Linked DNA regions of Homo sapiens: region 2 is linked to region 1. The links come from fine-mapping of genetic effects on gene expression. A gene starts in region 1. The other region holds a variant in brackets. All regions are shown on one strand. Distances are between the middles of the regions.

Region 1 (9,859 bases):
AAAAAAACATAGGCTAGTAAGGTCATTCAGGTTGATAGCAGAGCCTGGGGTGGAGAGAAATTCCTTGATAAAAGAGGAGACATGGCCTGGCTTCAGTGACTTCGTGTGTAAAACAGAGCATATAGTGTTAACTTGAGTGCCTTTTGATAACTCTTCAGACTAAAAGATCCTTAAGGGCAAAGGAATTTGCATCCCTCATACCTATTGGTGGGCCTGATACTCAATAAGTGCTTAAAGATTAACAAAGGGATGGATGGATAGATGATGCATTGGATGGATGATGGGTGGATGGATGGATGGATGGATGGATGGATGGATGGATGGGTGAATGGGTGGATGGATGGATGGATGGGTGATAGGTGGGTAGATGGATAGATGGATGGATGGATAACGTGTGGGTGGTGGACAGATGAATGGATGATGGGTGGGTGGATGGATGGATGATGGGTGGGTTGATGGGTAGATGGATGGATGATGGGTGGGTGGATGGATGGATGGGTGGATGGGTGGGTGGATGGGTAGATGGATAATGGGTGGGTGGATGGATGGATTAATAATGGGTTGGTGGATGAATAGACAGATGGATGATGGGTGGGTGGGTGGATGGAAGGGTAGAAGGGTGAATGGGTAGATGGATGGATGGATGAATGATGGGTGGGTGGGTGGATGGATGGGTAGATAGATGGATGGATGATGGGTGGGTGGGTGGATGGATGGATAGATGTGTGGGTAGATGGATGGATGATGGGTGGGTAAATGGGTGGATGGACAGATGATGAATGAGTAAACGAACAAACTAACCACTGAGTTTGAAAATATCTTAGATAGAAATATAGGCTCACAATATTTGGTGGGAAACATTCAACAACCAAACACCTTCTTAAAATGCACCCCTTCTACTCAATTACCTCAGAAATGAAGCACTGTGAAAATAGATAGATTCTGAAGTCACACAACCCTAAGTACCTGGCTCTGTGTGACCTTGTGCAAGTGATTTAGCTACCCTAAGTCAAAGTTTCTATAAAACTGGGCAATGTTAGGGTGCCACCTCTGAGGGAAAAGCCCAATGAAACAATATTCCAAGGGCATCCATGGGTGGCAGTCATTATTTTGATGAATTTACTGTGGACAGGGCCTGACTCTCAGTCTAACCGTAATATACTTCATTTCATCAGTATACGGGGAGGGAAGCCATTTCCCAGATTCAGACCCAGAAAGGCTGATACATAAACTAGAACGCTAATTTATTAATTTATCAGGGGAAATTATTTGGAGACTCAAAGTAACTAGCACATTTTCTCCCTGTTTGCAACTATAATGGGGAAGTAAAACCACAATCAGAAAGTTCTCAAGGTCAGGCAAAGAGACTTGGGCAACATCTTGCATGTAGTGATGAGACAGTCATTGGGAAACACTTGAAATAAAGTCCTTGGTGGTCACTGACAAGATTTGTCTCTGTCTTCTTGAATGAGTTTATACATCTTTACTTTTTTCTACTATATATTAATGCTTGAGGGGGTATCTTATTTTCCTTGCTCCCAATTTTTGAGGGAAAGGCTTACCACAGCCCCTGAAATATTAACAATAAAGAGAGACGGTCTCTTTCTGTTGCCCAGGCTGGAGTGAAGTGGTGCAATCATAGCTCACTGGAGCCTCAAACTCCCGGGCTCAAGCTATCCTTCCACCCCAGCCTCCCAAATACCTGGGACTACAGGTATGCACCACTATGCCCAGCTAATTTTTAAGTTTTTTCTGTAGAGACGGTCTCACTGCATTGCCCAGGATGCCTAGCCTGGTCTCAAACTCCTGGCTTCAGGCACTCCTCCTGCCTTGGCCTTCCCCATCAGTGTAGTCTGCACATTAGCTGAAGGGTCTCTCTGCCCCTCAGGATCTGGGTCAGATGGCTTAACTCCCCAATCTCATAGCCTGTGAAAGTCCAAAGCCTATTCCAGATTTCAGTGAATCCTTGGGAGATTTGTGTTCTCATGGCTTCCTTTTCCTCCCTTGTGGTCTCTGCTCAGCATTATGTCAATCCAGAGATGAATCATAGCTTCCTCAGCAGTTTCTACCAAAATAAAAAACAAAAAAAAAATGCCACTTGCACAAAACATTTATGAATAAACTTTTCTAAAGAACTCAGGAAGGCCAGGTGCAGTGATTCACACCTGTAATCCCAGCACTTTGGGAGGCTGATGTGGGAGGATCGCTTGAAGCCAAGGGTTTGAGACCAATCTGAGCAACCTGGATAACATAGTGAGATGCTGTTTTTACCAGAAAAAAAATTAAAATTAAAATTAACTGGGTGCAGTGGTGCATGCCTGTAGCCCCAATTACTTGGGAGGCTGGAGCAGGAGGATTGGCTGAGCCCGGGAATTTGAGGTTCTAGTGAGCTTTGATCGCAACACTGCACTCCAGCCTGAGCAACAGAAGCAAGACCCTGTCTAAAAAAAAAAAAGAAAGAAAAGAAAAAAAGAAAGAAAAAGAAATTAAGAACTGAGGAGCAAAGGGAGGTCACACTAAGGATTCACATGTACATGATACAGTAAGATGTTTAAAATCCACACTAGACATTCTTATTCTTCAAAAGTTCCTTCAGACCACCCTGACGCCAAGAGTTCTAGTCCTGACCCTTCTCACCAATACCTGCTGATCTTACTTCCTCCCTGAACTTCTTTCCCCTCTCTTCTCCCTCCTTGGTTCTCTCTCTCACCCTTCCCTCTCGTTGACTCAAGCATAAAGGTTCCGCCCCCTCTCTGGAACCTCCTCCACAGCTGGAATCCTCAGACCTGAGAATTTCACTCTCTAACACTGACCAAAGGTGTTTTTCAAAGACTGTTCCTTTCTAAGATGAATTTAGGGGCTATGAATTTTGTTAAGAAAACAAAAGTATTCCTTGCCTGAGTGTAAAGTGCCTGGGATATAGGTTCAACAGATAATCTATCCACTCTCTTGTTCCTATTTATGCAATACATTGTTGATCAACAATAATCACAACATGATTGTGTTGTTTCTACTCCTCTCCACATTCCAATGTGGGTTAAGAGGACATCCTCAAATAAAAATTTCTGGCAACTGTATTTTCCCCATAGCTGTAGGCTTGCAAAGACTGTCTGATGCCAAATACTAGTTTCCTGATTTACTGGCCTTGTGATCTTGTGCAAATTTCCTAACCTCTCTGGTTTCAGTATCTCAGTCTGTAAAAATGGGGTGATAGATCAGCTCACAGACTTCTCGGGAGGATTAAATTCATTCACGTAAAATGCTTAGTACATAATAAGGGCTCAAAAAATATTAGTTGCTACTGTTTTTTTTCTTAGTTCCTTTCTTCTGGAATAGTGTGATTTTATCAATCTAAACATCAGAGATTTAGTACTTGCACTTTAATGAAGCCAACCTTGCACTGGAGACTAGATTCTATCTTGAAGTGGCAAGGTCAGGGCTCTACTTGCTGGTAGCCTGGGCTGCAGAGGATGACCAGGTGCTAGCTCACCTGGGGCCTGCATTCAGAGATGGAGCAAGAAGTGGGGACATGATGAGAATATAATCCAACCCACAGTAGCCTAAACTGGGAGAGACACTGACTACCCTGAGTCTTGTTCATTTCCAGGCCAGAGAACTCAGAAGCCTGGGGGTTCCTAGGGCTGACTAGCATCCTAATAACCCAGCTCCTACTAGATCTGTTCTAGATCTGATGTGACTCTCTCAGAGACCCTTCAAATGTCCCTGGTTTCCCAAGACAATGGGAAGAACTGAAATACCACAGACCCTCCCAGAGATGACAAGGGCTGCCCCCTACAGTCTAGAGCCCTAGAATGCACAGACTCCTTGATCAAGTGGCCAGAGTGGTCCATCTGGGTCAGGTTGTTCTCATGGCCATATTTGATTGTGGAATACCACCTGGCCCCATAACCTACTCATTCACTGGAGTCTCCACCCCTCATAGGATCAAGGTGTTTGGACTGTTTGCTGTAGCCTCTGGAAAAATTAAGAATGGAGTGGGAGAGCCAGGCTTGGGTTGGGTGAAACATGTATCTCCCAAGGTGACCCTAGGTGAGGGGGAGGAAGAAGGAAATGGGCTGCTGGGCCAGATCCATGGGGCACATCTTGAAGGGCAAGACTAGGTGTGTCTTTCTCTTTGCAGAAGGCAGAGTCGTCTGGGCCTAGACACGAGGAGGCTGGGCCATGCTGGAGGTTGAGGGTGGCAGGGGAGGAGATTATAGCCCACCTAAACACTACCAAAAGAGCACATAGATACACTAAATCATTTGGAATCCAGTCCCTACTCCCTACATGAGTATATTATCCATGTGGCATTTTAAGCTCTCCCTGCATACCTGCGTCTCCCTTTCATGTCTTTGGGTTCCTGATCATCCACGCTGCCAGAGCTATAGTGGATTGTGGGTAGAGGGACAGGAAGGCTGTGTGCTTTGAGTCTCCATCCCTGGGGCTGACCATGGAACAGGTCATGCTCTGTGGTACATTTTGGCCCCTGCACCATCCATCACCCTGGTTTTCTTTGCAGAAGTATGTACCTAAACAAGAAGCGAGGCCACCTGGGAAGTGGAGGTCTCAGCCCAGCCCAGGGGAGTGAGCCCACAGACAGAAGAAGAGTGACTACTAACAAGCAGAAAGGGACCTGGGCACTTGATTCAGATGAGGACCCTGGTGACTCTGCCCCTTCCAGTGGGCTCAAGCCCCTGCCCAAGAGTCCAGTTTTATCATCTAGGGGGACATCTAGGGCTGGCAGGATCTTGCCGTCTCTCCCTTGGCCCTGGGGTTTGGGGCAGGAGCCTTCTAGACAAGGCCCAGGCACTAGGCCCACCAATGCAGGTGTACCAAACAGGACTCTTCTCTAAGAGGCCTTTGGCTTGGAGAAGAGCCTGGACCTGGCGGCTCCCAAGTTTTTACTTCTCTCAAAGTGCTACCCAGCTGCCTATAGCACATGGGCCCCTGTTGCATTAAATCTATAAATAAAACTTCACACCCCAATACTTATCCTAGGCAGAATCCTAGGCGTCCCACCCCTCGCGCAAACCTGCCTTCCTGGGATGGGAGAATTTGGAAACGCTCCCTGAGCCAGTCCTGGGGAGCTTCCTTCCAGCCCCTGCCCCGGTGGTGGGGGGTCCGCAGAGATCCGCGGGAGGTCCGGGCACGCACGCCTGGCTGTGGGGAAATTCGGCCCCGTCAGGCGGCCGCGCTCACAGGAGCAGCGTGACCCGTCGGCCCCGGGGGTGCTGGCGCCAGGAGCCAGCACTCGCGGTGCGCTCCCCCGCGCCTGGCTTCCCTGGACTGTCGCCAGTCCTACTCTGCCTGAGGTGGCGAGGGCAGGGTGGAGCGCGGCCTTTTCTGGCCTGAGGAGGAGTCACTCGGGAGGTCACTCGGCTGCTGGGCGGGCTGCTGTCACAGGCGCTGCGTGCCCTGGCTCTGCTCGCCACTGGCCGGCGCGCTCCCGGCGCACGGAGCACACTCGCGCTCCCGGCGCACGGAGCACACTCGCGCTCCGGGACTGAAACCTGAGCAGCCGTAGCAGCCGAATTTGGGAGCATATCCTTGTCACTGCAGCCAGAAAGCCCTTCGATCCCCATCAGAGAGGTCACATGAGCCCCGAGGTCACCTGCCCGCGGAGGGGCCACCTGCCTCGCTTCCACCCGAGGACCTGGGTTGAGCCCGTGGTGGCCTCGTCCCAGGTGGCTGCCTCCCTCTACGATGCGGGGCTACTCCTCGTGGTGAAGGCGTCCTACGGAACCGGAGGCTCCTCCAACCACAGTGCCAGCCCATCGCCCCGGGGGGCTCTAGAGGACCAACAGCAGAGAGCCATCTCCAATTTCTACATTATCTACAACCTTGTGGTGGGCCTGTCCCCCCTGCTGTCCGCCTACGGGCTGGGATGGCTCAGCGACCGCTACCACCGAAAGATCTCCATCTGCATGTCGCTGCTGGGCTTCCTGCTCTCCCGCCTCGGGCTGCTGCTCAAGGTGCTGCTGGACTGGCCAGTGGAGGTGCTGTACGGGGCGGCGGCGCTGAACGGGCTATTCGGCGGCTTCTCCGCCTTCTGGTCCGGGGTCATGGCGCTGGGATCGCTGGGCTCCTCCGAGGGCCGCCGCTCTGTGCGCCTCATCCTCATTGACCTGATGCTGGGCTTGGCGGGGTTCTGCGGGAGCATGGCTTCCGGGCATCTCTTCAAGCAGATGGCTGGGCACTCTGGGCAGGGCCTGATACTGACGGCCTGCAGCGTGAGCTGTGCCTCGTTTGCCCTGCTCTACAGCCTTTTGGTGCTAAAGGTCCCTGAGTCGGTGGCCAAACCCAGCCAGGAGCTCCCCGCCGTGGATACCGTGTCTGGCACGGTTGGCACATACCGCACTCTGGATCCTGATCAGTTGGACCAACAGTATGCAGTGGGGCACCCTCCATCTCCTGGAAAAGCAAAACCCCATAAAACCACCATTGCCTTGCTCTTTGTGGGTGCTATCATATATGACCTGGCGGTGGTGGGCACAGTGGACGTGATCCCTCTTTTTGTGCTGAGGGAGCCTCTCGGTTGGAACCAAGTGCAGGTGGGCTATGGTATGGCTGCAGGGTACACCATCTTCATCACCAGCTTCCTGGGTGTCCTGGTCTTCTCCCGCTGCTTTCGGGACACCACCATGATCATGATTGGGATGGTCTCCTTTGGGTCAGGAGCCCTCCTCTTGGCTTTTGTGAAAGAGACATACATGTTCTATATTGGTGAGTCTGTCATTCTTGAGGAGGCAGGACATTGCTAGCCCTCTGCATCATGGGGCTGACACCAGGGATGCCATGGTCTGGGTGTCCTAGCTCAGCACCAGGGATTGAACCTGCTACCTAGGAGGCACAAGGGACACAAGATTATATGCCCCTGAGTTTATCTGTAATGTATTGTTAATTAATTATCTATATTGAGAATGAAATGTTACCAGAGTGGTGTTCATGGTTCTGGGCAGTCAAGGAGGTGTGGTCAGTGGTACCTGGAGTCAGTAGGGGAGGCTTCAGGATGGCCTTCAACAGAGGAGATGGAATTGGGTTTCTTCCCCCACACCCCCTTGCCATTTTAAAGGGATGGAATTTCAAAGGCCGAGCGCAGAGGCTCTCGCCTGTAATCCCAGCACTTTGGGCGGGAGGTGGGAGGATCACTTGAGGCCAGGAGTTCAAGACCAGCCTGGCCAATATAGCAAAACCTCATCTCTACCAAAAGCATAAAAATTAGCCAGGTGTGGTGGTGCACACCTGTAGTCCTAGCTACTCAGGAAGCTGAGGCACAAGAATCACTTGAACCCAAGAGGCAGCGGTTGTAGTGAGCCGAGATTGTGCCACTGCACTCTAGCCTGGGTGATAGAGCAAGACTCTGTCTCAAAAAAAAAAAAACAAACAAACAAAAAAAAAAAAACGTGGAGGAGTGGAATTTCAAGTAATTCTACTGAAAAGATCCCTTAATTAAAATCATTTGGAGTCAAGCAAGGGCTTTTTAAAAATGCATTAAAATACTCGGTAAATGCCTTCCACAACCAATGTAATAAATTCCCCAAGGAAGCAGCATTAAGTTTCCATCTGAGGGCACAAGTCAGACAACTATAAGCAGAAAGCTCGAGATGAATGCTCCAATAGAACTTTCTAGAATGATGGAAATAGTTGCTATCCATTCTGTCCAATACAGAAGCCACTGGCTCCATGTGGCTATTGAGCCGTTGAAATGTAGCTAGCGCAACTAAAGAACAGATTTTTAAATTTTATGTCATTGTATTTAATTTAAATAGTTATATGGGGCTAGTGGCTATCATATCAAAAAAACAACTTCAGACAGTTATCTGAGGCTGGCTCTTGGCCCAGGCAGGTCACACATCTTAGAAACACCTAACAAAATGGCAAGGTAACCTCTGGTCACTTCTCAATTAAACAGCATAGGACAGAGTACCCCCTTCCCCTTTTGCCCACCACCTCTCTCTGTGTCTCTCTTTGGGTTTTGTTTTGTTTTGTTTTGTTTTTGAGATGGAGTTTCACTCTTGTTGCCCAGGCTGGAGTGCGATGGTACGATCTCGGCTCACTGCAACTTCCACCTCCTGGGTTCAAGTGATTCCCCTGCCTCAGCCTCCCAAGTAGCTGGAATTATAGGCATGCACCACCACACCCAGCTAATTTTGTATTTCTAGTAGAGACAGGGTTTCACCATGTTGTTCAGGCTGGTCTCGAACTCCTGACCTCAGATGATCCACCCGCCTCGGCCTCCCAGAGTGCTAGGATTACAGGCGTGAGCCGCCACGCCTGGCTGTCTGTCTCTATCTGTCTCTCTTGTGCGTTCTCTCTCTCTCTCTCTCTCACACACACACACACACACACACACACACACACACTGCATCTGGATAATCAATAGAGCTTGAGAATAGAGCTTGAGAGCTATGCAGTGGATGCGTTCATGGGACACATTGCTGGAGGCAATTTGCCAAAGCTCCCGGGACTATCTCCCAGAGATGTTCATTAATGTCAAGGACAGACACTTCTCTCCTGGAGAAACAAAGAAAGGGGCCTTGTGTCACTTTGGTGGTACCAGTTCCACTTCCCTAGTAATCACTCAACTCCACCAGTAAAGACACATTTCACCATCTGTCACCATGTCAACTGTGCCCAGCCACCTTGCAGACTGATATGCAGCATACACAGCAGCATCAGAGCTCAGAGGGTCACAGACTGGTCAAGGGAGGGCGCTAGTGTGCCAGCAGAGAAATGACTTCCTCCAGGTCAAGCCACATTCGGATTGTGGGGAGATGGGGGTTCTAAGAGAGGCTTTTGATAATTTCCTCCTTGGCCCAGGCTGGGCTACAGCAAGGAGTGTTCTTGTGTGATCTCTTTCAGCTCGAGCCGTCATGCTGTTTGCTCTCATCCCCGTCACAACCATCCGATCAGCTATGTCCAAACTCATAAAGGGCTCCTCTTATGGTGAGTAGTGAACAGAATCTCTCTGGAATCTTCTGCCCGGGCTGTTTCAGAGCTGCTAAGCATGAGGCACAGACCTGCAGAAGGCACTTGAGACAGTTCCAGAAGCATCTTTGAAGACACTAGAAACACTGGTTTCCATCCAGGGCACAGAGAGTGGAGACGGGTATAGGAGTGACTTAGAAAGTCAGGCACTGAAAAGCCACAGTCAAAGAAGGATTCTATCGTCCACAGGCCTTGGGAAGATTCAACTAGATAGAGGCAGGATTCCTAGTGAATTGAGCCACACAAAGACTGAGAAGGCACCAGGTGCAGTGGCTCAATTCCTGTAATCCCAGTGCTTTGGGAGGCCGAGGTGAGAGGATCGCATGAGGCTGGGAGTTCAAGACCAGCCTGGACAACATAGTGAGACCCCCATCTCTAAACAAAAAAAATTAAAAATTAGCAGGGCATGGTGGCACATGCCTGTAGTCCCAGCTACTCGGGAGGCTGAGGCAGGAGGATTGCCTGAGCCCAGGAGTTTAAGGCTGCAGTGAGCCAGGATTGTGGCACTACACTCCAGCCTGGGCAACAGAGTAAGACTCTGTCTCTAAAAAAAGAGAGAGAGAGAGAGAGTAAGAAGGAAGGGTCCCCTAAGAACTCTCCAGAGACTCAGCTAATGGGGAGTGAGGCAGGGACAGCAAGGCACTCCGGAGTAACCTCTGTCCCTTCCACAGGAAAGGTGTTCGTCATACTGCAGCTGTCCTTGGCTCTGACCGGCGTGGTGACATCCACCTTGTACAACAAGATCTACCAGCTCACCATGGACATGTTTGTGGGCTCCTGCTTTGCTCTCTCCTCCTTTCTCTCCTTCCTGGCCATCATTCCAATTAGGTAGGATGGGAGCAGCATCTGCTGCTTGGGCTGGGACCCT
Region 2 (9,859 bases), 30 kb after region 1:
CTTATATACGGAAGATGATCTGGGGTCTGTGGCATTCCAGGTCCTGCTCTCTCCCTAGGCCATCACTTCAGATCTGCAATGGACTTTGTATGTCAGCCATGATAAACCAAGGCCATACCAGTTTTCTATTTGGTCCTCAAATGTACCAAACTCTTTCCTGCCCCAGGGACTTTGCGTATGTTGTCTCCTATACCTGGAATATATGTTTTCCAAGCCTCTGTCTCTGAGACTCGGATGAAATGTCATTTCCTCAGACTGGCCTTTCCTGACCACTCCACTTGCCCCTCCCACCCTTAGTCTGCATTATGCCCCCTAGTATTTTCTCCCCCAGTTTCCCGTTCTTTTCCTTATCTCACTCTGAAGCTGTGGGCTCCTTTGATGAACACATACCCTCCACAGGGCAGGAATCCTGCTGTTTATCAATTTGGTACACACTGCCCCTTGCACACAGCAAGTGCACAAAAAGCATTTGTTAAATATGTATAGAAGCAATACCAGGCCCCAAGACAGTGGCCCTGCCTGTGATATAGTGGGAAGACAGATAAACACGTACTTAAGACCAGGGTTGGGTCCTCCTGGGACCAGGACTTTAGGAACGCTGGGATTAATTACCAAAGGGAGCAACAGAGACATTTGACATAGTTGGTTTTGTAGTAGTAGGAAGGCCGCTGAACAGCAGAGGGAAGGTGTGGGAGTTACAGAAGAAAGGAACTCTGGGTAACAGACTGCACTACTGCACTCCAACCTGGGTAACAGAGTTTTTGACCCTATCGCAATATATATATATATATACATACATACATACATACACACACACACACACTCACTCATGTGTGTATGTATGTATGTATATGTGTGTATATATATGTGTGTATACGTGTGTGTGTGTGTGCATACATACATACATATATATATATATATATATATATATATATATATATATGGCGTGACAGGATCAAAAAACTCTGTTACCCAGGTTGGAGTACAGTAGTGCACAATCATGACTCACTGTAGCCTTGAACTCCTGGCTCAAGCCATCCTCCTGCCACAGCCTCCCGAGTAGCTGGAACTATAGGCACACGCCACCACACCTGGCTCATTTTGTATCTTTTGTAACGACAGTCCCACTACATTGCCTAGGCTGGTCTTGAGCTGGGCTCAAGTGATCCTCCCACCTCGGACTCTTCAAGTGCTGGGATTACGGGCGTGAGCCACTGCACCTGGCCTCGCACTGGTTTGCTGGACATACGAATCAAGCAAACCTTGATTGAGGGGACTGGGCTGTAGCCTGATAAGAGTCATCTCTATGTGTGTGTGGTGTGTGTATGGTGTGTGTGGGGGTTGTGTGTGAGGGTTGTGTGAGGTATGTGGGTGTGGTGTGTGGGTGTCGTGTGTGGGGGGGTTGTGTGTGGGGTGTGTATGTGGGGTGTATGTGTAGGGGGTGTGTGGTGTGCATGTAGTATGGGGGGTGTGTGGTGTATGTGTGGTGTGTGTGTAGTGTGGGGGGGTGTGGTGTGTGTGTAGTGTGTGTGTGGGGTGTGGTGGTGGTAGTGGGGTGTGTGGGTGTGTGTGTGTGTGCACGCGCATGTGCGTGCGCTGCTTAACCTGGTCAAGGGGATCCATGAGTAAAAGTTTTTAATAGAATTGCTTTCCTTTGTAATCCTACATCCCTTTATTTTACGTATTTAAAATCAATATTTTGAAGTCTATTTAAAAAACAAATGCACAGTATTTTGGTGAGGGGTCTATAGGCTTCACCAGATGACCAAAGGGGTTCACTGCACAACCAAACTGAAGGGACCCTGTGTACAGAACCCCAACACAGAGTAAAGTAACCCCAAAGCCTCCATTCGGTGGCAGCATCACTGTGCTGAAGGTCTGACTGGCTCTGGGAAGCAACCAGTGCCAGGCCCAGAAAGCATGGAAGACGAATGGGCTGCTTCCCCAGCAGCATGTGCAAGGGAAACCCCTGTGAGCACCCCCTCTGCTGCCAAACCCAGCACTGCAGCCACATGGTTGGGCAAGGGCATGAAGCGGGAGCCAAGACTAAGCAGCTAAAATAAGGGAAGGAGATGAGACTAGCAGGATTCCCAGCTTGTGGATTTCTGGTAGGCCCATGTGAAAGGCTCTGGCCATTAGAAACCAGTCTTGTTGGGCACACTCATTACCTTCTCATAATACTGGATGTTCTTGTCAGCCATCCCCATGAGTAGCTGCCGGAAGTCCTGCCTCTTGTTGTTCTGCCACCTCTCCATGTCAGCTTTCAGGTCAGCATTGAAACACTCCATCCGATCCTGACATTTCTCGACGTCCGCCGGTACCTGGAAAAGGGAGGCACACATGGGTGCCCTGCACACAAAACTGGCATCTCTTGCCTTGAGCTCCTCTGAGCACACATTTGTCAAAGGCCAAAGCCCTACATTAAAATGCTATCAACACGCTCCCTCCTCTGGAGGCATTTATTTGAAAGCAAAACCTTGGGTTTTCAGGTCTAAGGAGGAGCTCTGAAAAGGGGCTCTCCTAACCCAGATCTTCAAACCCATCCAAACACAACAGAGACTCGTGGGGGAAACACCCCCATTTACACACAGGAAGAAGAAACATTGCAATTCAGACTCATATGTCTTTGGTTCCTTTTAGGATTTACTCATCCACACTTGAAAGTGTGTGCAGACTTTGCAAATATACAGCATTTGTATTGCCCTGCTATTCTCCTGTGTCCCATATTGGAACTAGAGAAGAGGTAGGTTCTCCCAGATCACATGAACTATTCCATTGCTGTGACATTTGATGATGCCTTTCCTCATTAATCAGAGAATTGCAATAAGACAACTACTGGCCAGCTGCCTCCTCTGAACCCCACATCATAAATAAACTGGAGGCTTGTTTATGCTTTTCCCAATAGCAGATACTTTTAAATGGAGAGTTAGAGAAGTCTGAGAAAACAGGAGGAAAGTTACTTATGCATGTCAAAAAAATTTGAAATTCAAAGAAGAAATATACAGCAGGCTATTTCAAGTTTTTCTTAAAGAGGTTTAGAAGACTTTCTCAAAAGGGAACTATGTCACTTGAAGTTTCACAACTTTCACTTTGCTTTGGTGAATTTCACCATCCTGTGCAGCTGGAGTTTGGGCTTTGTGGCTGCAGCGCTTCCCAAAGCTGGCTTCTCTCTCCTAACTCAAGCACTTCACTGAGCCCTGATGGCGGCCAGGGAGCCGACAGGCCCAAAGCCAGGTCAAACCCCCGACCTGCCAAATGTATCCCAACCACAAGTGAGGCCTTTTATGTTTGGTGTGCTGGGGCCCATGAACCAAACTGTCTCCAAGCCATGGCTCACCCCTGGGAGTCCACTTCCACCAATCGAGGAGGTTTATACCCAAGCCTCGTGGACAAGGAGCTGACCCAGAATGATGCCAATGAGAAAGACAGGCCTGAGGGAGCTGGACACCTTCAGGGTACTCAGCCATCTTCTCCACAGACCACGTGGAGATGGTTGTAGAACACAGGAGTCAGGGAAGAGACATGGCCAAGGCAAGTGAATTTGAATGTGCCTGACACGGGAACTAGACATGGGTGAAACCAGGATGAGCTGGAGAGAGAGATAACTAGACACTCTGGAAATTTAAAAGCAAGGAATTTTTCTGTTAAGATGGGGAAAGAGGCCTTCTTCAAAGCACATAAGCTTCTGGAAGAGGGAAAAAAAAAATACTGGGCTGAGTGCAGTGGTTCATGCCTCCCAGCACTTTGGGAGGCCAAGGCAGAAGATCACTGGAGGTCAGGAATTTGAGACCAGCCTGGGCAACATAGTAAGACCCCCATCTCTA[C/T]AATAAGTAGGATGTGGTGGCGCTATGTTGTCCAGGCTGGTCTCGAACTCCTGGCCTCCAGTGATCCTCCCACCTCGGTCCCCCAAAGCACTGGAATTACAGGTTTGAGCCACCATACCAGGTCAGAGACTGACTTTTTCTTCTGATGCCATGATTTAAGTCTCTTTTGCCTCCTCCCAAGACCACCCATTACTATTGGTTACCTCAGGAAAAACTGAAATAAAAACCAGAGTATCCCAGTCTTGCCTCTCCAGAGTCACTCCAGGAATCAGCCTCAATGGAAAGATGCCCAGCGAGCCAGTGTCTCTGGCTGGCCTCACCTCCCCACAGGCACAGGCCAGTTCCCTTACCCGTCTCCTGGCCACTGCTCACACTTGCATTGGGGTGAGGGTGCCTATGAGCAACTTCCTGTTTGCTTAACGAAACTTCTGCTGTGAGGAGAAAATGGAAAGCCCTGGAAAGAGAACCTCACCAGGACACGTGGAGAGGAGGGCAGCCAGGGTCTCTGAATCAGGACTGTTCACAGAGGAAAGATTCCCAGGTTTAAAGATTCCCAGGTGTGTTCTGGAGATGGGAACTCTGACTGACCCAGAAAAATCAGGGTCTAAACCACGGCTGTGGGTTTTAGGACTGCCTGAGCCTCGGTCTGGGAAATATTTGGCTTCTCAGTTTCACAACACATTCTGTGCTTGGCACTGAGGAATACAAAAGTGCTTGGGTCTCAACAGACAAATCTTGTCTCCCGTAACCTACAGTCTAGTTGGGAAGAAACAGGAACATGCCTAGACACTGAGGCAAGATATCGTAAGTGTTGTCGCTTCCCCTGCAGCCCCCGTGATAAGCACGCTGAGGAGGATGGAGGGGGCGGCCAACCTGGGAAGATCGGGCCTCATGGAGGAAACAGCACTGAGGCGGCTCTTTAAAGATGACAGATGTGAGATGTTTGACCACTTGGAAGGCACTCCAGAGTGGCGGTACACACAAGGGACAGAGGAGAGAAGACACCAGGACCCACCGCAGGAATTGTGCACAGGCCACAGGGCCCACAGCGGCACGGAGAGGGAACTGCAGCTCGCAAGACTGGCAGAGGGTGGCAGGGGATGAGGAACCTGAGGCTCGTCCCAAAGTCCTGCTTTCCTGAGGCCCAGTTAACTCATGCCCACTCTTGGAGAATAGAAAAAGCCCCACACTTCCTCCAGCTGCAGTGGACAGCTCTAGAACCAAACTTCCAGAGCTTAGCTTGCACACCCCACCTGCCACTTACCAGGTGTGTGGCCTGGGACCTGGCCTCAGCTTCTCTGTCTGGCTAATAATATCCTCCGCCTCACTAGGCTGTCATGAGGCCAGACAGGCTAATATGTGTTAAGTGCTTTACAGCGTCCTAATTAGGAAGGGGGAGTTGGGCTGACAGGACCAAGGGAAAGCAAAAAGAGAAGGCAGATTAAGCTATACTTCTGCTTTTCTTCATGGTCCAGGACACATAGCCTTCCTGCACAAATATTAATAACACAATCTTCCTGCACCCAGCTATCACCAGACCCTCAGTTAATAGAAAAATGCAAGTTTGCTCACTGCGACCTTGGAGTTATCAGCACTGCATGAAGCCCTCTTCAGTACACAGCACGAGCACCATTCTATGAAATCCCCAGCAAGCCTTTGTTTCTGGGCAGTCAGCTCCCTTCCTGCTGATCTGCCTGTTGCACTCTTGCAATGTATTTTCCTACTTTTTCTAATAAATCTGTTTTTCTTTACCTATAATTGTCTTGGTAAATTCTTCTTACCCCTGCAACACTGGTTCCAGAGAGTCATTGCACACCTGTGACACACTTGTGCCTGGCATATAGTAAGTGCTCAATAAACATTTGTTAGCTCATATCAGTATCAATATTATAATTTGCTGTTCACAAAAGATAATCTATCCCTTGCACAGCTCCTCAAGCTTTATTCCATGTGTTATAAAACAGGTTTTCATCTTCCAAATACAAACTATATTATTATATGTTCTCCCAAACATTATGCCACCCTTTGCCAATGCTACTCCACCCTGAGATTTCATTAGACACCAGAGATGAATCATCTCCAAACTACATATTAGCATGAGATTGCACTGGGCATCCTGGAACTGGGGTTGTGGCTCTAACACCAGAAGGGAGAGGATGGAGTAAACCAACCTGGTGGAGACAGAACTGACAGATTTGGCAACTGGCTGCCCATGAGAAATAAAATACAGGGAGTCCGAGAGAAGCCTGAAGTTTCTAGTCTGGATGACTAGGGTGGCACTAATGCCACCAAAGGCTCAGAATGAAGGACAGGTCCACAGATCACAGAAAGGAGGGAGTTGCAGCCAGGGGAAGAGTGATGCCTCCCTCCACAAAGCGGGGTGAGATAACAAGAAAACCAAACACAGCTCTTTTATAAAGGCTTATGGAAAAGAATACACAACCAAATTTAAAAATGAGCAAAGGACTTAAACGTATCTCCAAAGAAGATAAACAGTCAGCTGGGCGCAGTGGCTCACGCCTGTAATCCCAGCACTTTGGGAGCCTGAGGCGGGCAGATCACAAGGTCAAGAGATCGAGACCACCCTGGCCAACACGGTGAAACCCTGTCTGTACTGAAAATACAATAAAATTAGCTGGGCATGGTGGTGTGCTCCTGTAGTCTCAACTACTTAGGAGGCTGAGGCAGGAGAATTGCTTGATCCAGGGAGGTGGAGGTTGCAGTGAGCCGAGATCACGCCACTGCACTCCAGCCTGGCGACAGAGCGAGACTCCATCTCAAAAAAATAAAAATAAAGAAGATAAACAGTCAACAAGGACATGAAAAGATGCTCAACATCATAATCACTAGTGAAATGCTAATCAAAGCCACAGTGAGATAGCACCTCACACTCATCAGGATGGCTACTATTAAAAAAAATAACAAAAACAGAAAATAGGCCAGGTGCAGCGGCTCACACCTGTAATCCCAGCACTTCAGGAGGCCAAGGCAAGTGGATCACCTGAGGTCAGGAGTTCGAGACCAGCCTGGCTGGTCTCCGGGAGGCGGAGATTGCAGTGAGCCAAGATCACGCCACTGCACTCTAGCCTGGGCGACAGAGAAAGACTCTGTCTCAAAAAAATAGATAAGCGTTGGTAAGAACATAGGGAAACTAGAACCCTTGTACATTGTTGGTGGATTGTAAAACAGTATAGCTGCTATGGAAAACAGTATGGAGATTCCTCAAAAATTTTAAAATAGAACTACTATATGATCCTGCTGGATTCCACTTCTGAGTACATATCCAAAGAAATTGAAAGCAGGGTCTCAGAGATACTTGTATACACATGTTTATAGCAGCATTATTCACAGTAGCCCAAAGATGAAAGCAACACAGATGTCCACTGATGAATGGATAAACAAAATGTGGTATGTATATGTATGTGTATGTATGTATGTGTGTGTATGTCCCATATATATGGGATATTATTCAGCCTCAAAAAGGAAGGGAATTCTAACACATTACAACATGGATAAACCAAGGACATTACACTGAGTGAAATAAGCCAGTCACAGGATAAATATTATATTATTCTAGATACGAGGTATCTAGAATGGTCAAAGTCATAGAGACAGAAAGTAGAACAGGGGTTTCTAGAGGCCGGCAGGAGGGGGAATGGAGAGTTGTTTAATGGGTCAGAGTTTCAGTTCTGCAAGATGAAAAGAGTTCCAGATATCGATTGCACAACAATGTAAATGTGCTTAACACGACTAAGCTGTACACTTTTAAATGGTTAAGATGGCAAATTTTATATTCTGTATATTTTACCACAGTATAATCTTGTTTAAATATATGGAGGGAAAGGTGGGGCTGAGGGAGGCAGGGCCCAAGGTTTGAACTCACAGAGAAGCCAGCATGTGTAGGGTTAATAAAGGACTCAGCAAAAGTCACTCGGGAAGGCAGAAAGGCGGGCACAGAAAGAGGAGGTGGTGAATCAGAGAGAACAGAGCCAGAGAAGCCCAGGGGTGGTAGGAGTTAGAAGAGGATGGAAGAATTAAAAAGAGGAACTGGGGTGAGCTGTCTGTGACCAGCTTGTGAAGTTCCCCAACTTGAAGAAGGGGAGCGCTGGCAACTCATGCTCAGGCATGTATTCTTCCACCTTTGATTTTTTGGATAGTGTCTTTGTAACTATCAATTCACTGACCAGTAACACTAAGCATTCTTTTTACTTTTATTTTTTATTTATTTTTGAGACAGGTCTTGCTCTGTTTCCCAGGCTGGAGTGCAGTGGCACAATCACAGCTCACTGTAGCCTCAATCTCCCAAGTTCAAGCGATCCTCCTGCCTCAGCCTCCCGAGTAGCTGTAACTACAGATGCACACCATCACACCCAGCTAATATTTTTATCTGGAGTAGAGGCGAGGTCTTGCTACCTTGCCCAGGCTGGTCTCGAACTCCTGAGCTCAGGCGATCTTCCTGTCTTGGCCTCCCAGAGTGCTGAGATAATAACAGGTGTGGGCCACCACCCTCAGCATTTCCTCTTATCTCAATGTTTTAATTTTCGTGACTGAGGTATTGTTACGGTTGTGCTACCATGCGTCTGAAGGATGTTGACATGGCACAGCACTGCTAATGGTTGGGTGTTGCTTATCATGACACCAAGGAAAAATATCACCAGATAAGACCTCAAAAGATAAAAATTTATACAGAGGTGACAAAATTGCATTTTTCACCTTGGTTCCCAATCTCTCATGAGAATTTCCATTACAGAATATAGGTTGTTAGTGCAATGACAGAAGAGTCACGTGGATGGGACTGTGCATTTCTGTGTGCTGGGGAACGGGACAGTAACTTAAATTCACTCAACATTCATTTAAAAACGCATTACTCAGTGAGCCGAGATTGAGCCACTGCACTCCAGCCTGGCAACAGAGCAATAAATAAATAGATAGATGGATGGATGGATGGTTGGATGGATGGATGGATGGATGGATGCATGCATGCATGCGTTACTGAGCTCCTTCCATGTGCCACGCATTTCCAGGCCCTAGAACAGAAATCTCAACTTAAGTCTCCTTCTTGGAGCTGGGTTGGAGATGTCACATTATCTGCTCTCATGATGATAGTAGGTTAGGAAAATCCCCAAAGACTACACAAGACAGATATAATCCCAAAGTGTGGAGGAAAGGGGAGCTCGTGGCTGCTGTAGGACAGGCTCCAGGACCAGTGACAGCCACACGCTGCTGAGTGAGCAGGGGACAGGGCTCCCTAACTGGCAATGTGTGAGTGGCAGAGAGATTGGTCCTCTGCCCTCTGGGAAGCCAGAGCCCCCAGGCTGGTCACCTCCAGCTTCCAGCAACTGCGTTTTCAGTGTCTATTTGAGCTGTGAGGTGAAAACAGGTAAGAAAACACTGATACAGGGTCAAGTCTGAAAAGAGGCCATGGAATTGGGCAAATAGAAAGTCAGTGGCTCTCTGAATGAATGCTTTTTTAATTATAGATAAAAACAAACTTCAGAGAATGGTCAGTGGGGAGTGAGGGAGGGAGAGGTGAGGGCATGAGATGAGGAGCAGAGAGGCTGACAGCAAGAGATCCTCGAGCTTGCCTGCGCAATGACACGAGAGTGAAGCCCCAGGGAAGGCCACACGCACTCTCCGTGCCTGCCTCGGGAAAGGCAGGGCGCCCCCTCAGGGAGCACAGCTGCTGGGGCCCGCGCCCTGGGGAAAGGCACCAGTTTTGGAGCCAGATGCACTTGGACTCCATACCGGCTCCACCATTTGTTGACTTTGGCACTTAAGTTCCACGCTTCCCCTGACCCCGGGCCCCCATCTGTCACATGGAAACCACCGCACTGGCAGAGGGTGGCTGCGGTGGGACTTAAGTCAGCTGAGGGGATGGGGGAGTTCTGCCTGCTCTGGCTGGAGGCACCTGGTCTTCTGCCCCATGGTGAGGGTCCTCACTTGCCAGAAGGGTCTGGAAACAACAGACACGAGGCCCCACTCTCCGGTCTGCATTAGCTCTGTATGTAGAAGTCTCCCTGCTGGCAGTTTACAAT

Alleles and levels. Positions count from the first base shown, and alleles are read on the strand shown. Sizes are in standard deviations (SD) of each study's normalised expression.
For the expression in monocytes of the gene that starts at base 5,403 in region 1, T is the high allele of the variant in region 2 and C is the other (large effect, 0.89 SD a copy in Kim-Hellmuth 2017).

The links.
Region 2: its variant is fine-mapped to the expression of SLC46A2 in monocytes (Kim-Hellmuth 2017, PIP 0.95).

Annotation. Positions count from the first base shown.
Region 1 is chr9:112,886,420-112,896,278 of GRCh38, reverse strand. It overlaps SLC46A2 (solute carrier family 46 member 2), which reads left to right and starts at 5,403. Exons shown (of 4, transcript NM_033051.4): 1 at 5,403-6,726; 2 at 8,866-8,949; 3 at 9,663-9,819. The coding sequence starts at 5,598.
Region 2 is chr9:112,856,709-112,866,567 of GRCh38, reverse strand. SNX30 (sorting nexin family member 30) reads right to left here. Exons shown (of 9, transcript NM_001012994.2): 8 at 2,169-2,321. Among named protein-coding and RNA genes, the nearest start is that of SLC46A2, 29 kb to the left of the region's middle. The variant C/T (reference allele first, on the strand shown) is at 3,825.